Homo sapiens: one gene and its partners. The protein of the gene in region 1 purifies or fractionates together with the protein of each later gene. This does not show direct contact. Each region holds a gene or a part of one and is shown in the gene's direction. Other genes may lie near its edges. The genes, in order: TSPAN16, ECEL1 and SCAP.

Region 1 (3,753 bases):
TAGCTGGGACTGCAGGCACCCGCCACCACAACCGGCTAATTTTTTGTATTTTTAGTAGAGACAGGGTTTCACTGCATTAGCCAGGATGGTCTCGATCTCCTGACCTCGTGATCTACCCACCTCGGCCTCCCAAAGTGCTGGGATTACTGGCGTGAGCCACCGCGCCTGGCTTCAAATGACCTCTTAAATAAAGGTGTGGAAGGACACACTCCTGGCTGTGAACAGCACCCGTGGTCCAGGAGGAGACAGCACTCCTCTGTGAACATCTTGCTTAGTTCTACATGTTCCAAGAAGCAGGCGATTTGACAGACATTCATTAAATTAATTAAAGTGTAAGGTATTTTCTCCCATTTGAACCATCCGCCTTCCCCCAATCCATGCAGGACCTGGACCCAGACACACCCCAGCCCAGGGCTGGACAGAGAGGGGATCGGGGTGGGGCAATGTGAAGCTGCTATGGTTAGGGTGGGGAGGTATGGGGGCAAAGTGGGCTACAGACTGCAGGATCTAGGCCTGGAGGTCTTCAGTGCTGACATACAGAAGGTTTTTGGTCCTGAAATGCTAACTACATCTATCACCATGGAGAAAAGCCCAATGACCTGCTACTTGGGAGGCTAAGGTGGGAGGATCACTTGAGCCAGGGAGGTCGTGGCTGCAGTAAGCCATGATCACACCACTGCACTCCAGCCTGGGCAATGGAGCAAGATCCTGTCTCAAAAGAAAAAAACCCAGTGACCAATGGCTCACAGTTCCAGGACTCTCTGCCTTACAGGTTCCTGCCCTCATGTTACTCTTGGGGCTTCAAAGCCTGGTCTTGCTTCCTGTGTGGCCTCAGGCAGTTCCCTTGGCCTCTCTGAGCCCTGTATGAAGGATGGGCCAAGTATGGGCTTGGGCTTGGGAGGCCCGGTGGCTTGTAGCTAGATTTCTGCATCACAGAGCCTCTGGATCCATTCATTCATTCTCCGCGGGTTTCTTAAGTACTGCAGTGCCAGGCTTTGGGGACACAGCTGTTTTTGTTTTTGTTTTGTTTTGTTTGAGACAGAGTCTCACTCCGTCAACCAGGCTGGAGTGGAATGGCACGACCTCAGATCACTGCAACCTCCACCTCCTGGGTTCAAGTGATTCTCCTGCCCCAGCCTCCCAAGTAGCTGGGATTATAGGCGTGTGCCACCACACCCAGGTAATTTTTGTATTGTTTGTATTGTTAGTAGGTCTCAAACTCCTGACCTCAGGTGATTCGCCCGTCTCCGCCTCCCAACATGCTTTGACTACAGGTGTGAGCCACTGCGCCTGGCAGGGGTCACAGCTGTTAATAGGACAGCCCAAGTTCCCCCCTCCCCCGCTTGGATCCCCCAGTCTACTAGGAGATGTCAACTGTGCAAGTGGTTAGCTCTGGGCACTATGCCCACAGGGTCCTGGTGGCATCTGGAGGGTACCAGGGTAGCATACCATGCCTGTTCTCTTTCCCTGCTGTGACCTGTTTGAAGGATGAGGAGCCAACAGGGGGCAGTTTGGGGCACCTGATTTCCCTGGACCATGAGCCTTGCTCCAGAACCCAATTGTGATGTGATAAAAGGCTTATGACCAGGGCAGGGGGCAGCTGCTGGGCCGCCTTGGACAACCATCAGGCAGCCAGGACACAGAGGGGCAGAGCAAGTCAGCATTGGCGCCCCTTCCTCAGATCCCTATCATCTTGGGAAACAGTAGCCCAGAGGTTCAGGAAGATGTTAACTTAAATGTTCAGGGTGCCCCAGTCTGTTCAGCATGGCTGAAATCCACACTCCGTATTCTTCCTTGAAGAAACTGTTATCTTTACTCAATGGCTTCGTGGCTGTAAGTATGTCACAATCCAGGCCCCTGGTTTGTTGCAGCCCTTCCTCCACAGTCAGCTCCCTGAAAGACAGAAATAAGTTGATCCAAATTGGCATCGAGATCTGTGGTTCCCTGGAGAAGCAGGAGGGATGTAGGGCAGACGGAGGAGGAGGAGCAGGGAGCGTGGGGACCTCCATCAACCGAGAGCTGGTGAAATCCAGCACAGATGAGTGTGATCTGGGGGAGCCCAGGTGGGTGATGGAAGAGCTTGGCTCTAAGTCAAATCCTGTAGCCGACCAAGTTGTTTGGGAAGGCCAGGAGAAAGGGTTATTTTCTTGATCTTTTAAATTTGTCACATTTTTTTCCTTACCGTAAAAGTAACCCGAAATGTACATTGCTAAGGAATTGTCAGGCCGGGGGCGCTGGCTCATGCCTGTAATCCCAACGCTTTGGGAGGCCAAGGCGGGTGGATCACGAGGTCAGGAGTTCAAGACCAGCCTTGGTCAATATGGGGAAACCCCATCTCTACTAAAAATACAAAAAAATTAGATGGGCGTGGTGGCACGTGCCTATAATCCCAGCTACTCAGGAGGCTGAGGCATGTGAATTGCTTGAACCTGGGCGGCAGAGGTTGGCAGTGAGCCGAGATTGTGTCACTGCACTCCAGCCTGGGCAACATAGCGAGACTCTGTCTCAATAAAAAAATAAAAGAATAAAAACATAAAAAGAAGTAATTGTCTTCATTGTAGCATAGTCTAAGGAAAAGCTGCCAGGAAAGAGAAGGAAATGAAATATCACTCCTCCTCTTCACTTGTAACATTTTAAAGAGAATTAAGGCCGGCTGTGGTGACTCATGCCTGTAATCCCAGCACTTTGGGAGGCCGAGGTGGGCAGATCCATTGAGCCAGGAGCTCGAGACCAGCTATAGTGAGATCCCCATCTCTATTTAAAAAATAATAATACAAAATAAAGTGTTATTGGAACATGGCCGTGCTCACTTATTTGGAGATTGTGAACAGCTGCTTTTGGGCTACACCAATAGAACTGCGTAGTTTCAACAGACACCTTAAGTCCTGCAGAGGCCACAACATCTGGGTTTTTCAGAAAAAAAAAATTGCTAATCCCTGTCCTATGACATTATTTTATTTTATTTTATTTTATTTTATTTTGAGACGGAGTCTTGCTCTGTCACCCAGGCTGGAGTGCAGTGGCATGATCTCAGCTCACTGCAACCTCCACCTCCCAGGTTTAAGCGATTCTTCTGCCTCAGCCTCCTGAGTAGCTGGGATTACAGGTGCCCACCACCACGCCCGGCCAATTTTTGTATTTTTAGTAGAGACAGGGTTTCGCCATGTTGGCCAGGCTGGTCTCGAACTCCTGACCTCAGGTGATCCACCTGCTTCGGCCTCCCAAAGTGCTGGGATTACAGGTGTGAGCCACTGTGGCTGGCCTATTTTATTTTTTGAGACAAGGTCTTGATCTGTCATCCAGGCTGGAGTACAGTGGCACAGTCATAGCTCACTGCAGTCTCAACCTCATGAGCTAAAGTGATCCTCCCACTGCAGACACCTGAGTAGCTGAGACTACAGGCACGCACTACTACTGGCTATTTTTTTTTTGTTGGGGAGAGGGTACAGATGAGGTCTTACCAAGCTGGTCTTGAACTCCTGGGCTCAAGTCTTGGCCTTGGCCTCCCAAAGTGCTGGGATTACAGGCATGAGCCACCGCACTCACCCAGTTCTATTTGTATACAACTAACAGATTACTTTTCTTCCTTTCTGGTTTCTGTTCTAAAGGTGTCTGGCATCATCCTAGTTGGCCTGGGCATTGGTGGTAAATGTGGAGGGGCCTCTCTGACGAATGTCCTCGGGCTGTCCTCCGCATACCTCCTTCACGTTGGCAACCTGTGCCTGGTGATGGGATGCATCACGGTACTGCTTG
Region 2 (2,907 bases), on another chromosome or scaffold:
AGGTGGCGCAACACTAATGATGAGGTAGGAGGAGAAACCCCTACGTAGGTGCCTCCGTTTCCCTCCTGTCTCCTCCAGCCCTGTTTCACTGCCCAGCCAGCTCTGTTAGATGTGATTTCCTAAAAGAAGCTGGATAGGTTCCACTGGCATTCACATAGCGCATGAGGAAGCTGAGGCACATGTGCCCCTGGACCGCACGGATGCCTCTGTGGCCTCCCTGTGCCACCTCCTGGCCCGGCCAGGGGACATCTGGGGCCTGGGCAGCAGCATGGGGCTCTCAGAGGGTGGAGGGCTAGGGCCTGATGCTGCTGCTGTGGGCCCAGGTCTCTCAACTACGGGGGCATCGGCACCATCATTGGACATGAGCTGACCCACGGCTACGACGACTGGGGTGAGGCCTGTTGGGGCCCCAGGGGATGGCCCGGAGGGGGCAGGACAGGCAGTGGAGAGGCAGGGTAGGGGATGGCCTAACTGGGGCTGGTGGGTGGGGAGGGGAGGGGGCTCAGGTGAGGGTGGGTCTCAGCCTGCTGCACTGCCCACAGGGGGCCAGTATGACCGCTCAGGGAACCTGCTGCACTGGTGGACGGAGGCCTCCTACAGCCGCTTCCTGCGAAAGGCTGAGTGCATCGTCCGTCTCTATGACAACTTCACTGTCTACAACCAGCGGGTGAGACCCCCACCTGCCCCTTGTGCCCCTCAGGCCTGGTGGGGCACGGGCCGGGAGCATCACGCACACCCTTGCGCACGTGCACATGTCCAAACAAAACCTGTGCCCAGGTCCCTGCACACACATTCGGTTCCCACGCACACTCACGTGGACAGATAATGAGTGTCCGCAGACTTACGGAGGACAAGGGGGTTGGGAGGAAAGAGTAGGGTTGGAGCCCCCCCTCAAACTCTCTGGGCAAGGGAAGGAGAGGGGTGGTAGGAATTAGGGGCTGGGGCCCAGGGTATCAATGCCTGAGGGAGGCCAGCTGGGCCCCAAGCAGCCCCCTGGCCTCTTCCCTTCCCGGCAGGTGAACGGGAAACACACGCTTGGGGAGAACATCGCAGATATGGGCGGCCTCAAGCTGGCCTACCACGTGAGCGGCCTGCCTGTGCTCCACCCCTGCTGCAGGAGGGACGGGGGCTGATGAGGACTCCAGATGAGGGACAGAGCTGCCTCTCCCTGCCCACCCTGCTGAGCTCTGGCCTGGGGTGGGGCAGGGCATGTGCTGGGGCCACGGTCCACTGGAAGAGGAAGGATTCACGGGCCCCCCTTCACAGGGAGAGCAGGGAGGGCTACCTAGATGGAGGACAGAGAAGAAGCGGTGCCCAGGGTGGGCGGGCATAGCAGGTCCATGCTCTCTGTGTCCCCAGGCCTATCAGAAGTGGGTGCGGGAGCACGGCCCAGAGCACCCACTTCCCCGGCTCAAGTACACACATGACCAGCTCTTCTTCATTGCCTTTGCCCAGGTGGGCTGGGTGGGGGATTGGACTGGGAGCCTTGGGGTGGGGACACGGCATCCAGGGTCAGTCCCAGTCCTGCCTTGCCCAGGCTTCGCATGGACAGCCTGTCTGTCATCACCTGTCCCGTCAGAGGTGATGGTCCTGTGGTGCTGAGGGGGCCTACCGCCTTGTGTGCTGGGTGGGGGGCAAGGGGGCGGATGCCTGGCTTCATCTCCCCCTCCTCCCCTCCACCCCGCTCCTGGACCCAGAACTGGTGCATCAAGCGGCGGTCGCAGTCCATCTACCTGCAGGTGCTGACTGACAAGCATGCCCCTGAGCACTACAGGTATGCCCACCTGCCCGCCTGGCCTTGTCCACTCCTTGTGTTTGGGGTGGGATCAGGGGGCATGGGAAGGAATAAAAGTCACCCCTGGTTGCTGGGGCTGGAGTGGCTGCAGGGCCCAACACTGTGTGGGTCTCTCCCCACCCCAGGGTGCTGGGCAGTGTGTCCCAGTTTGAGGAGTTTGGCCGGGCTTTCCACTGTCCCAAGGACTCACCCATGAACCCTGCCCACAAGTGTTCCGTGTGGTGAGCCTGGCTGCCCGCCTGCACGCCCCCACTGCCCCCGCACGAATCACCTCCTGCTGGCTACCGGGGCAGGCATGCACCCGGTGCCAGCCCCGCTCTGGGCACCACCTGCCTTCCAGCCCCTCCAGGACCCGGTCCCCCTGCTGCCCCTCACTTCAGGAGGGGCCTGGAGCAGGGTGAGGCTGGACTTTGGGGGGCTGTGAGGGAAATATACTGGGGTCCCCAGATTCTGCTCTAAGGGGGCCAGACCCTCTGCCAGGCTGGATTGTACGGGCCCCACCTTCGCTGTGTTCTTGCTGCAAAGTCTGGTCAATAAATCACTGCACTGTTGCCTTGGCCTCTTCACGGGTCCCCAGGGCAGGCGGAGCTGGAGAGAGCCCTCTGCAGGGAGGCTAGGGCACTTAGCACAACCGGGACCCTGGAGAGGACCTTCTTGTCTCCTGGTCGCCCTGGCTTGGCCGCCTGTGTCCAGCCTTCCTGGACTCTTCTATCTTTTCCACCAACCGACAGTACTTCCCTGGCCCAGCCGCCCTCCCCCAAAGCCTCGCCCAGGGCTTCTTGCCCAGTTCTGGGGCACCCCTAGTTCAGCCTCATGGCCTGGTGACCCGCATTCCAGGGTGATGCTGGGGCTTATGACCCCTGCAAGTCTGAAGTAGGAGAAACTTCTGCCTTGTCTTAGCCTGGCCCTTGGCCTCAGCCTCCCTGGAGAAGGGGATAGCGATCCACACTTACATGGAGGTGAGGCTGACCCACAGGACATCTCAGCCTCTCCTCCAGTGTGGAGACAGGCTTCTGGGGTGCAGAAAGGAGAGGACTGGTAGGAATGGTAGGCTCCTGGCATGAGGAGGGTGGACAGAGGCAGGGAGTGCTGCCCAGGCTGGAGGCTGCCGG
Region 3 (3,653 bases), on another chromosome or scaffold:
GTCAGAAGTTCAAGACCAGCTTGGCCAACATGGTGAAACCTTGCCTGTACTAAAAATACAAAAATTAGCAGGGTCATGGTGGCACGCACCTGTAATTCTAGCTACTTGGGAAGCTGAGGAAGAATTGTTTGGACCCAGAGGTAAAGGTTGCAGTGAGCCAGGATCGTGTCACAGCACTCCAGCCTGGGTGACCGAACAAGACTCTCAAAACAAACAAACAAAAATTATTTGGTGATTTTTTTTTTGAGACGGAGTCTCCTTGTCACTCAAGCTGGAATGCAACGGCGTGGTCTCTGCTCACCGCAACCTTTGCCTCCCGGTTCAAGCGATTCTTCTGTCTCAGCTTACCAAGTAGCTGGGACTACAGGCATGTGCCACCACACCCGGCTAATTTTTGTATTTTTTGTAGAGATAGGGTTTCACCATGTTGGCCAGGCTGGTCTTGAACTCCTGACCTCAAGTGATCTGCCCACCTTGGCATCCCCAAGTGCTGGGATTGCAGGTGTGAGCCAACGTGCCTGGCCCATTTTAACCATTTTTAAGTGTACTATTTAGTGACATTAAATGTATTCACATTGTTATGCAACCATCATCACTATCCATTTCCAGAATGTTTTCATTATTCTACATAGAAACTATCGATCCAGGAGCCATATGTAGAAAGCTGAAACTGGATCCCTTCCTTACACCTTATACAAAAATCAATTCAAGATGGATTAAAGACTTAAATGTTAGACCTAAAACCATAAAAACCCTAGAAGAAAACCTAGGCAATACCATTCAGGCCATAGGCATGGGCAAGGACTTCATGACTAAAACACCAAAAGCAATGGCAACAAAAGCCAAAATTGACAAATGGGATCTAATTAAACTAAAGAGCTTCTACACAGCAAAAGAAACTACCATCAGACTGAACAGGCAACCTACAGAGTGGGAGAAAATTTTTACAATCTACCCATCTGACAAAGGGCTAATATCCAGAATCTACAAAGAACTTAAACAGATTTACAAGAAAAAAATCAAACAACCCTATCAAAAAGTGGGTGAAGCATATGAACAGACACTTCTCAAAAGAAGACATTTATGCAGCCAACAGACACATGAAAAAATGCTTGTCGTCACTGGCCATCAGAGAAATGCAAATCAAAACCACAATGAGATACCCTCACACCAGTTAGAATGGGGATCATTAAAAAGTCAGGAAACAACAGGTGCTGGAGAGGATGTGGAGAAATAGGAACCCTTTTACACTGTTGGTGGGACTGTAAACTAGTTCAACCATTGTGGAAGACAGTGTGGCGATTCCTCAAGGATCTAGAACTAGAAATACCATTTGACCCAGCCATCCCATTACTGGGCATATACCCAAAGGATTATAAATCATGCTGCTATAAAGGCACATGCACACGTATGTTTATTACGGCACTATTCACAATAGCAAAGACTTGGAACCAACCCAAATGTCCATCAATGATAGACTGGATTAAGAAAATGTGGCACATATACACCATGGAATACTATGCAGCCATAAAAAAAGGTGAGTTCATGTCCTTTATAGGTACATGGATGAAGCTGGAAACCATCATTCTGAGCAAACTATCGCAAGGACAGAAAACCAAACACCGCATGTTCTCACTCATAGGTGGGAATTGAACAATGAGAACACCTGGACATGGGAACATCACTCACCAGGGCCTGCCGGGGGATGGGGGGAGGGGGGAGGGATAGCATTAGGAGATAAACCTAATGTAAATGACGAGTTAACGGGTGCAGCACACCAACATGGCACATGTATGCATATGTAACAAACCTGTATGTTGTGCACATGTACCCAAGGGCCAGTGGGTGGGAATTGGTATCTCATTGTGATTTCAATTTGTATTTTCTAAGGAATATTGATGTTGAGCAATTTTTCATATGTTGATTGGCCATTTGTATATCTTCTTTTTTGTTGTTGTTTGGGTTTTTTTTTCTTTTTCTTTTTCTTGAGACGGGGTCTTCTTGCTCTGTTGCCCAGACTGCAGTGGCGCAATCACAGTTGACTGCAGCCTCAAGCCTCTGGTCCCAAGTGATCCTCCCACCTCAGTCTTCCAAGTAGCTGGGACTGCAGGCATGTGCCCCCATGCCTGGCTTATATTCATATTTTTTGTGGAGATGGGGTTTCACCATGTTGCCTAGGCTGGCCTTGAACTCCTGAGCTCAAGTGACCCATCCACCTCAGCCTTCCAAAGTGGTGGGATTACAGGCATGAGCCACCCCACCGAGCCTGTATATCTTCTTTAGAGAAATGTTCATTCAAGTCCTTTTCTCACTTTGAGTTATTAATTGTTATTTTGTTGTTATTGTTGAGTTGTAGGAATTCTTTACAAATTCTGGATATTAAACCCTTGTTAGATATATGATTTGTGAATAGTTTCTCCCATTCTGTTGGTTAGCATTTCACTCTCTTTATTGTGTGATTTGCACAATTTTTAACTTTTTTTTTTTTTTCTTTTTTAAGACAGAGTCTCCCTCAGTCACCCAGGGTGGAGTGCAGTGCTACAGTGTTGGCTCATTGCAGCCTCCACTTCCTGGACTCAAGCAGTCCTCCCACCTCAGCCTCTCAAGTAGCTGAAACTACAGGTGCACACCACCATGCCTGGCTAATTTTTTTTGTATTTATTTTTTTTTAAGATATGGGGTCTTGCCATGTTGTCCAGGCTGGTCTCAAACTTCTGAGCTCAAGCAGTCCGCTTGCCTTGGCTTCCCAAAGTGCTAGGATTAAGGCGTGAGCCACCACGCCCGGCCAAAAGTTTTTAATTTTTATGAATTCCAGTTTATCAATTTTTTTCTTTTGTTGCCTATACTTTTCAATCCTTGCTAAACTCAGCATCATGAAGATCTTTTTCTTATATTTTCTTCTAAGGGCTTTACAGTTTTAGCTCTTCTTTTTTCATTTATTTGATCTATTTTGAGTTAATTTTTGTGTATAAGAGTCCAACTTCACTTTTGCGTGTAACTATCCAGTTTTCCCAGTAGCATTTGTTGAAGAGACTGTCCTTTCCCCAGTGACTGGTCATGGCATCTTTGTCAAAAATCAGTTGATTATATTTGTGAGAGTTTATTTTTGGGTTCTTTTTTCTTCTTCTTTTCTTTTTTTCAGGTTAGATGGGTAGTGCTGACATCATAACAAGGTTCAAGAATGACTCATCTCACATGTGTGTGAAACACCCAGGTATCATACTGATGAACTACAGAAGATCTGGGCTCTCTATTGTTTTATATGTCTGACCTTATGCCAGTACCACATTGTTCTGCTTACTGTAGCTTTATAGTAAGTTTTGAAATCAGGAAGTGTGAGTCCTCAACTTAGTTCTTGTTTTTCAAGTTTGTTTTGGCTATTCAGGGTTCCCACTTTTTTCTTTGGACAAAGTAATGGGGAGAATTTCTTTCTTTTTTTTTTTTTTTTTTTTTGGTTTTTAAGACAGTCTCACTCTGTTGTCAGGCTGGAGTGCAGTGACGCAATCTTGGCTCACTGCAAACTCCACCTCCTGGGTTCAAGCGATTCTCCTGCCTCAGCCTCCTGAGTAGTTGATATTACAGGCACCTGCCACCACGCCCAGCTAATTTTTGTATTTTTAGTAGAGACGGGGTTTCACCATGTTGGCCAAGAT

What was found.
Region 2: the proteins of TSPAN16 (region 1) and ECEL1 purify together in Homo sapiens (affinity purification with mass spectrometry; one large-scale study listed by BioGRID and IntAct). This does not show direct contact.
Region 3: the proteins of TSPAN16 (region 1) and SCAP purify together in Homo sapiens (affinity purification with mass spectrometry; one large-scale study listed by BioGRID and IntAct). This does not show direct contact.

The regions. Positions count from the first base shown.
Region 1 is NC_000019.10:11,294,534-11,298,286, forward strand, and holds the start of TSPAN16 (tetraspanin-16), read left to right. Parts: upstream 1-1,626; 5' UTR 1,627-1,764; coding exon 1,765-1,833; intron 1,834-1,969; exon of another isoform or gene 1,970-2,063; intron 2,064-3,608; coding exon 3,609-3,753.
Region 2 is NC_000002.12:232,479,266-232,482,172, reverse strand, and holds the end of ECEL1 (endothelin-converting enzyme-like 1), read left to right. Parts: intron 1-323; coding exon 324-391; intron 392-542; coding exon 543-667; intron 668-1,016; coding exon 1,017-1,082; intron 1,083-1,359; coding exon 1,360-1,455; intron 1,456-1,697; coding exon 1,698-1,774; intron 1,775-1,920; coding exon 1,921-2,020; 3' UTR 2,021-2,346; downstream 2,347-2,907. UniProt on the Homo sapiens protein: May contribute to the degradation of peptide hormones and be involved in the inactivation of neuronal peptides.
Region 3 is NC_000003.12:47,465,937-47,469,589, reverse strand, and holds part of SCAP (sterol regulatory element-binding protein cleavage-activating protein), read left to right. Parts: exon of another isoform or gene 1-1,537; intron 1,538-3,141; exon of another isoform or gene 3,142-3,241; intron 3,242-3,653. UniProt on the Homo sapiens protein: Escort protein required for cholesterol as well as lipid homeostasis.